Homo sapiens: one gene and its partner. The protein of the gene in region 2 purifies or fractionates together with the protein of the main gene of each other region. This does not show direct contact. Each region holds a gene or a part of one and is shown on either strand. Other genes may lie near its edges.

Region 1 (3,820 bases), about 140 Mb from region 2:
ACTTGAAGTCAGGAGTTCAAGACCAGCCTGGCCAACATGATGAAACCCTGTTTCTACTAAAAATACAAAATGAATTAGCCAGGCATAGTGGCTCATGCCTGTAGTTCCAGCTACTTGGGAGGCTGAGGCATGAGAATCACTTGAGCCCGGGGAGGCAGAGGTTGCAGTGAGCGGAGATCTTGCCACTGCTCTCCAGCCTGGGTAACAGAGCCAGACTCTGAGTCAAAAAAGAAAGAAAACCCAGTATCATAAATCAAAGAACAGAAGTCCTACCTTCCATAGTGTTGAAGATTTCCTGGCATTTCTGCTCTTATTGGAGAATCCCTTCCTGCTAACTGCAAATACATTTAATGTTGAGAATGACTTATCAGACTTTTTATTTATTTTCCAAGCTTTGAAAAACAGCATTATCTACTAATTGGTTCCATGCCATTTGTCTTTTTCTTTTAGAGACAGGATCTTGTTCTGTTGCCCAGGCTGGAATGCATGCAGCATGATCATGGCTCACTATAGCCTTGAACTCCTAGGCTCAAGCAACCCTCCCACCTCAGCCTCCTGATAGAGGCATGTGTGACCAAACCTGGCTAGTTTTTAAATTTTTGGCCAGGTGAGGTGGCTCACGCCTATAATCCCAGCACTTTGGGAGGCCAAGGCAGGCAGATTACTTGAGCCCAGGAGTTTGAGAACAGCCTGGGCAACATGACGAGATCCCATCTCTACAAAAAATTAACCAGGTGTGGTGGCACACACCTGTAGTCTCAGCTACTTGGGAGGCTGAGGTGACAGGACCGCTTGAGCCCAAGAGTTTGAGACCATCCGAGTCAACAAAGTGAGACCTCATCTCTTAAAAAAAATATTGGAGAGCGGGAGGACAAGAGGGAGGGAATGAACAAGCGAAGAGAGTGAGTTCAACTGAGCCAAAATGATTTTTGTGTGTTAAGCTCTGAAAATACTTTGGGGAGAACACAGTGATATCATTTAAAAGTTCTCTGCAGGAAACCAGGAAATTAAGTACTAGAGTGGAAAGCCAGGTAGGCACTAAAACATCTACTGAAAATTAGGTCTCCTGTTGATAGAGGAAAATACTACACAGGTTGATTGTTTTAAAGATCACTGGCATTTTAAAGGTTTCTAGAACCCAACCTAAAATCCAATTTTTTTGGCCAGGAGCAGTAGCTCACGCCTGTAATCCCAGCACTTTGGGAAGCTGACGCAGGTCAATCACCTGAGGTCAGGAGTTCGAGACCAGCCTGGCCAACATGGTGAAACTCCATCTCTACTAAAAATATAAAAATTAGCCAGGCATGGTGGCAGGTGCCTATAATCTCAGCTACTTGGGAGCCTGAGGCCGGAGAATTGTTTGAATCCAGGAAGCGGAAGTTGCAGTGAGCTGAGATTAAACCACTGCACTCCAGCCTGGGCGAAAAGAACGAAACTCTGTCCCAATAAATAAATAAATAAATAAATAAAATAAAATACATAAATTAAAAGTAAAATAAAATCCAATTTTCCTCTACTCAATGACTCACTCCTCTTAAAAACATGCTTTGTGGACTGGGGGCAGTGGCTCACGCCTGTAATCCTAGCACTTTGGGAGGCCAAGGTGGGCAGATCACAAGGTCAGGAGTTCGAGACCAGCCTGGCCAACATAGTGAAACCTGTCTCTACTAAAAATACAAAAAAATTAGCTGGGCGTGGTGGCGGGCGCCTGTAATCCCAGGTACTAGGGAGGCCGAGGCAAGGAGAATTGCTTGAACCTCTCCATCCCAGGTGAAAGTTCGAGACTCCGTCTCAAAAACCAAACAAACAAAAACACACACAAAAAAACCAACACACAGACACACAAAACGATGCTTTCTGTATCACATCTGAATGTCACATACTGGAGGAGAGCTGCATGTGGTTTTCTGTGCTAATTGATATACAGTGACATAAATAACACACTAAGACAAAACATACATCAGAAACGATCAGAAACACCCCCATGCACCACCATCTCACTCCACCTGCCCTCTCTGTGCCCCTGCATGTAATTGTGTGCAGCTATGGTACCCATCATACCTCAGGTTCGATGTGCCTTGGGAAAAGGGAGGTGGTAAGGTATTTGTATAAAATTCTCATGTCATCTTGTTCTAATCCACTCCTGCAACAACAGAAAAGCACTGGGTTAAACGTTTCGAACTGTCTTCTGTCTTTCCACTGCTGTGATAAAGCTCATTAAACAAAAATTTTTTTTTCAAGTCATTTTTAGTAACACAGAATAAATTCTAACTTTTTAAAGTTTAAAGCTACTTAAAACTCAAAGCAATCTATTTTTCTACCTGAGATCAAAATGAGTTTCCTTTTTCCTAAACATAATTCTTAGCATTGAGGTAAATCTGAATTTACGTGGTATACTTTGTCAAACTTTTCCAAAGAATTTGAAGCCCTGGATAAAGCTCATTTTTTATTAAAAAAAAATTTTTTTTTCTTTTTTTTTTTTGAGACAAGGTCTTGCTCTGTCACCCAGGCTGGAAGCAGTGGTGCGATCATGGCTCACTGCAGCCTTGGCCTCCAGGGCTCAAGCGGTCCTCCCATCTCAGCCTCCAGACTAGCTGGGACTACAGGCATGCGCCACCATCAGCTAATTTTTGTATTTTATGTAGAGATGGGGGTCTTGCTACGTTGCCAGGCTGGTTTCGAACTCCTGGACTCAAGCAGTGCTCCCGCCTCAGCCTCCTAAAGTGCTGGGATTACATATGTGAGCCACTGTGCCTGGTCTCATCTTTTTTCATTTTTCAAGAGATGAGTCTCGTCTGTCGCCCAGGCTGGATTACAGTGGTGTGACCACAGCTTGCTGCAGCCACCGATTCCCAGGCTCAAGCAAACCTCCCACCTCAGCCTCCTGAGTAGCTGGGACAACTGGTGCTTTTTTCTTTAACATTATATCAAGAGGCTCACCACCTGACCGCGAAGTTAAGGAAGGTAAAGAGTTAAACTTCAGCCCAGGCACTGGAACTTTATCCTGACCTGCAAAAGGCTACTCCTACAGTCCTGTATTTTACATGCCATTTGAGATGAAAAAAAAAGTCACAAGGGATTGGACTCGCTGGTTGAATTCCGTGTAGGATTATGCAGGAAACCTCCAAAGCCACACTGTTTCATTTTAGGAGCAGATGTCTCTTAGCTTCCTGGGTTATATGGTAATGCCACATTCTCTCCCCTAGTCCCCTGGGAAAATATGGGTATGCTGTAGACAGGGAACGTGATCCTAGGTCTCAGAAATGTACATGGATTTTAATTCTCCGGATCTTCGGTGAAGAAAGAGGAGGAAGAGAAAAACAAGCTTTCAGGCAAACCATCTGATCTGAAATGAGGCAGGAAGGAGCAGCACATGGAAAAAGCACAGAGAAACTAGCAGGTATCAGACTCTGGAACCGGTTTTTTAAAAGGAGACAGACAATGAGGCTGGATCTGGGCGTTTTCTATTCAAGATCACTGAAATACCGTGAAGGTGGTCGGGCGCGGAAGCTCACACCTGTAATCCCAGCACTTGGGGAAGCCAAGGTGAGCAGATCACCTAAGGTCAGGGATTCAACACCAGCCTGGCCAACATGGCAAAACACCGTCTCTACTAAAAAATATAAAAATTTGCTAGGCCTGATAGCACACACCTCTAATCCCAGCTACTTGGGAGACTGAGGCATGAGAATCGCTTGAACCTGGGAGGCGCAGGCTGAAGTGAGCTGAGATCACACCACTGCACTCTAGCCTGGGCAACCAAGCAAATGAGACTCAGTCTCAAAAAAAAAAAATCAAAGCAATATACTAAGTAAATACA
Region 2 (3,820 bases):
GATCAAGTATAGGGAACGTGGGGTATGTTCTCCCTTTGCGGTAACTGGTGGCTGAGCAGGTGACCACTGATATTTCCAAATGAAAAAAGACAGTTAGAAACGGTGTCAATGGGCTTGCAGAGGCAGGCATGCACTGTGCCACTAGATTGGAACAGAAAATGTCCAGGTAGCACATGGTATTTATAGATATACCCTAGATATGGCAGAAACACACTTTTATTTAGAGGCTACTTGTTTTGAAGACGTGATGGTGTATATGGAGGAGAGGGCCTGAACCATGCAGATGTAAGTGAGGAGAGACTACAGGTTTAGTCCCATGGTCTCCTTAGGCCAAGTTTCAGAAAGTGTCTTAAAGTAAGCAAGTATATTATTCGATGTGTGGTTGAGAGAACAGGGCCACATCACAGAATCACCCATAGGGATTATAGTATTTTGTACTTAAGGGCTAGACATAGGGAGCCAATCGCATATGGTGTCAGTTAACTGGAAAAGGACATAAAAGTCCTTCTGCCTGTGTACAATTATGTCAGACATATCTCTTTGCCCCATATAGATGGTATCTCTGTCTCTGGGATGGCCAGAATCTTGTCACATACTACTCTGCAGTGTGCTAGGGACCTGCCTGTTTGGTTATGTCAGGCTCTATTGCAAGAGTTTGTAAGGATGGCTCAGTGTGTGTGTGTGTGTGTGTGTGTGTGTGTGTGTGTGTGTGTGTGTGTACACACAGTGGCTAAGCAGGACAGTATTCTGAGCAGGTGAGTTTTCAGTTTAAGCCTGGACCAGACAAGAAAGGTGCACGGTCAGGTGCAGCATTGGGTCCATAGAATTCTGGGGTCTTCTCTGGACTGATGGCCTGCCAGCTTTCTTTCAGTAGGACCTCTAAGTGCTTACAGGAGACTTAAATCAAGCGACTTTGCTTCAGGTTTGCCCATACCATTTGCTTAGGAGATTTGAGCAAGGGTCTAGGGTCTTTGACCTTTAGTTTCTTCATCTGTAAATTGAGCAGTTTCTGTGTGTCTCTGAAGGTCCTTCCGGCTTTATGAATCCTGTGTTTCTCTCTTACACTTATTCTCTGTCTCTCAGGTCAACAGTATTTACCACAGCCACCATTTCTATGACCCTTAAAGATAGCAGTGTACATTTTTATGTTACCTTATTTAATCTTTACTAGAACTGTGAAGGAATCCTTTTATCTCCTTTTTAAAGATAAGAAAATGGATGTTCAAATAAATTTAATGGTTTCTACAATTGTCTTAAAACCAGCAAAGATACCAGAGAGGCACAACCAAACACTGATCCACACTCTTCTAACTCTATATTCTTCCGTCATTCATTCATACAATACATCTTTGTTGAGGGCCAACTAGGCTTCAGGCAGAGGGGGTTATATGGCAGTGTTTGTCCCTTCATGGTGCTCATAATCTAGCCTGGAAAATAGACATTAAATATGACATGACAAGTGCAAGGTGTGTTTGAGGAGAAGCAAAGGATTCTCTGTTGCAAAAGAGGATTCCAGGCAGAGGAGCAGTGTCTACAAAGGCCTACAGGTGAGAGACACAGAGAGAAGTGAGCTAAAGACACTGAAAGCCAGTGGGGGGGGGGGGGATGGGGGCAGGGACAGATGGTGACAGGTGAATAGGCTGCTAGAGAAGAAGGCAGAGCCAGGTTGTGCAGGGAGTATAACCCATGCTGAAGATTTAGATTTCATCTCAAGAGCATTCAGAGGCTGCTGAAGAATCTAAGCTAGAACTGGTGCTTTTGAAGCTCACTTAGGTGCTGTATGGAGAAAGGACTGGAATAACGTGAAATGGGTGGACGCCAGTGCCCAAGCTGTGGCCGGGTGCAGTGGCCCGGGCGAGACGGTAGCAGCATGCACCAGTGGAGAGGGATGGGATAGAAGTGGACAGTCTTAAGGGATATTTAGCAGACGAGGTCAATAGCACATGGTGATTGATTAGATATGGGGAATCTGGGCCAGGAGGGAAACAAGAATTTTATTTTATTTTAATTAATTAATTAATTTATTTAGAGACAGAGTCTCACTCTGTCACCTAGGCTGGAATGCAGTGATGTGATCTTGGCTCACTGCAGCCTCTGCCTCCTGGGCTCAAGGGATCCTCCCATCTCAGCCCCCAAGTAGCTGGAACTACAGGCACGTGCCACCATGCTCCACTAATTTTTGTATTTTTTGTGGAGACAGGGTTTCACCAGGTTGTCCAGGCTGGTCTCAAACTCCTAGATTCAAGCAGTCAACCTGCCTCAGCCTCCCAGAGTGTCAGGATTATATATATAAAGTGCATTGGGAAACTCAGTTTTTCATCTGTAAAATGGGCAGAATAATGGTACCCATCTTATACGATGACTCTTAGATGTATGGCACATACATATTTAAAGAAGCATTTCATTATTTTTAATGACATGTATGCAGGAAAACCTTAGTGTTTCAGAATGAAAAATAAGAAAAATTAATTTGTTGTGTATAGAGCTCTAAATGTTTAAAGTTCTGTGTAAACTGTTAATCATGATTTTAGGAAAAGGTGGGCATATTCCATTGAAGTAAAAGGATCACATTTTATTCTGACCTGAATTTTATTCTTTATGTGAAAAATATTTATTAAACACTGAGTATAGGCCACTATTAGGCTAAGTATGGATAATTCAGCAAGTCATAGTTCTTAATCTCATAAATTTTACTATCTATTGGTTGCAATAGAGGGTAACTCAAAATACACACATCATTATATAATTATAATTGTATAAATGCTACAAAGGAAAAGTAAAGTGAATTATAGTTGGTAAGTGCTACAAAGAGGGGTACAATTTAACCTACTTAAAAGATCAGGGGAGGCCAGGTGCAGTGGCTTACGCCTATAATCACAACACTTCGGGAGGCCGAGGCGGGTGGATAACGAGGTCAGGAGATTGAGACCATCCTGGCCAAAATGGTGAAACCCCGTCTCTACTAAAAGTACAAAAATTAGCTGGGTGTGGTGGCACACACCTATAGTCCCAGCTACTCGGGAGGCTGAGGCAGGAGAATCGCTTGAACCCGGAGGTGGAGGTTGCAATGACCCAAGATTGCACCACGGCACTCCAGCCTGGGTGACAGAGCAAGACTCCATCTCAAAAAAAAAAAAAAAAAAGAAAGAAAAAAAAAGACTGGAGGAAACTGAAGGGGTAAAACCAGGAAAATGTAATACCACAAGTAACAAGAGAGTATTTCTAACCTCAGTACTGTCAAATACTGACAAGAACCACCCAAAGTGAAGATCCATAAGGTCTTCTTTGGAATTAACAACATGTTGATTGTAGGGAATATTGGCAGAATGCCGCTATCAAAGCTCAGTTGGAGGCAGGTGGGATGTGAGAGTATGAAGACAGCAGATAAGAGCAACTCCTTCTAGTCATTTGAAAGATGAGAAGAATGTGGGAATGCTTCCATACCCCAGGGGTTGTTCAGCAGGGATGTTGAAGGTATGAGTGCACAGTGTTCCTGGGGAAGCAGGCAAGAAATGACAGAGCATGGAAAGGAGGGATACGTCTTTTCCTGACTGAGGGCGGAAGATAGAAAGAGTGGAAATACAGGTTGCTTTGGATCACAAGAAATTGAGGTGAGAGAAACCCAGTTCCATCAGTTTCTATTTTCTTTGCAAAATAGGAGATGAGGTGTTCTGCTGGAAGTGAGAAGAAAGGCAGGAAGGTCGAAATCAAAAGACAGGAAGGTCAAAAGAATTAATGAGAAGAGTTCATATGGATACTGAGGCCAAGGGGAGAGTAAGGTGATGCAGAAAGCACCCTTCTGTGGTCTTCCTTCAAGGTG

The links.
Region 1: the proteins of ARHGEF35 (region 2) and CCZ1B purify together in Homo sapiens (co-immunoprecipitation; one large-scale study listed by IntAct). This does not show direct contact.

Annotation. Positions count from the first base shown.
Region 1 is NC_000007.14:6,812,703-6,816,522, forward strand, and holds part of CCZ1B (vacuolar fusion protein CCZ1 homolog B), read right to left. Parts: intron 2,144-3,820; coding exon 2,062-2,143; intron 336-2,061; coding exon 274-335; intron 1-273.
Region 2 is NC_000007.14:144,189,130-144,192,949, reverse strand, and holds part of ARHGEF35 (rho guanine nucleotide exchange factor 35), read left to right. Parts: intron 1-3,820.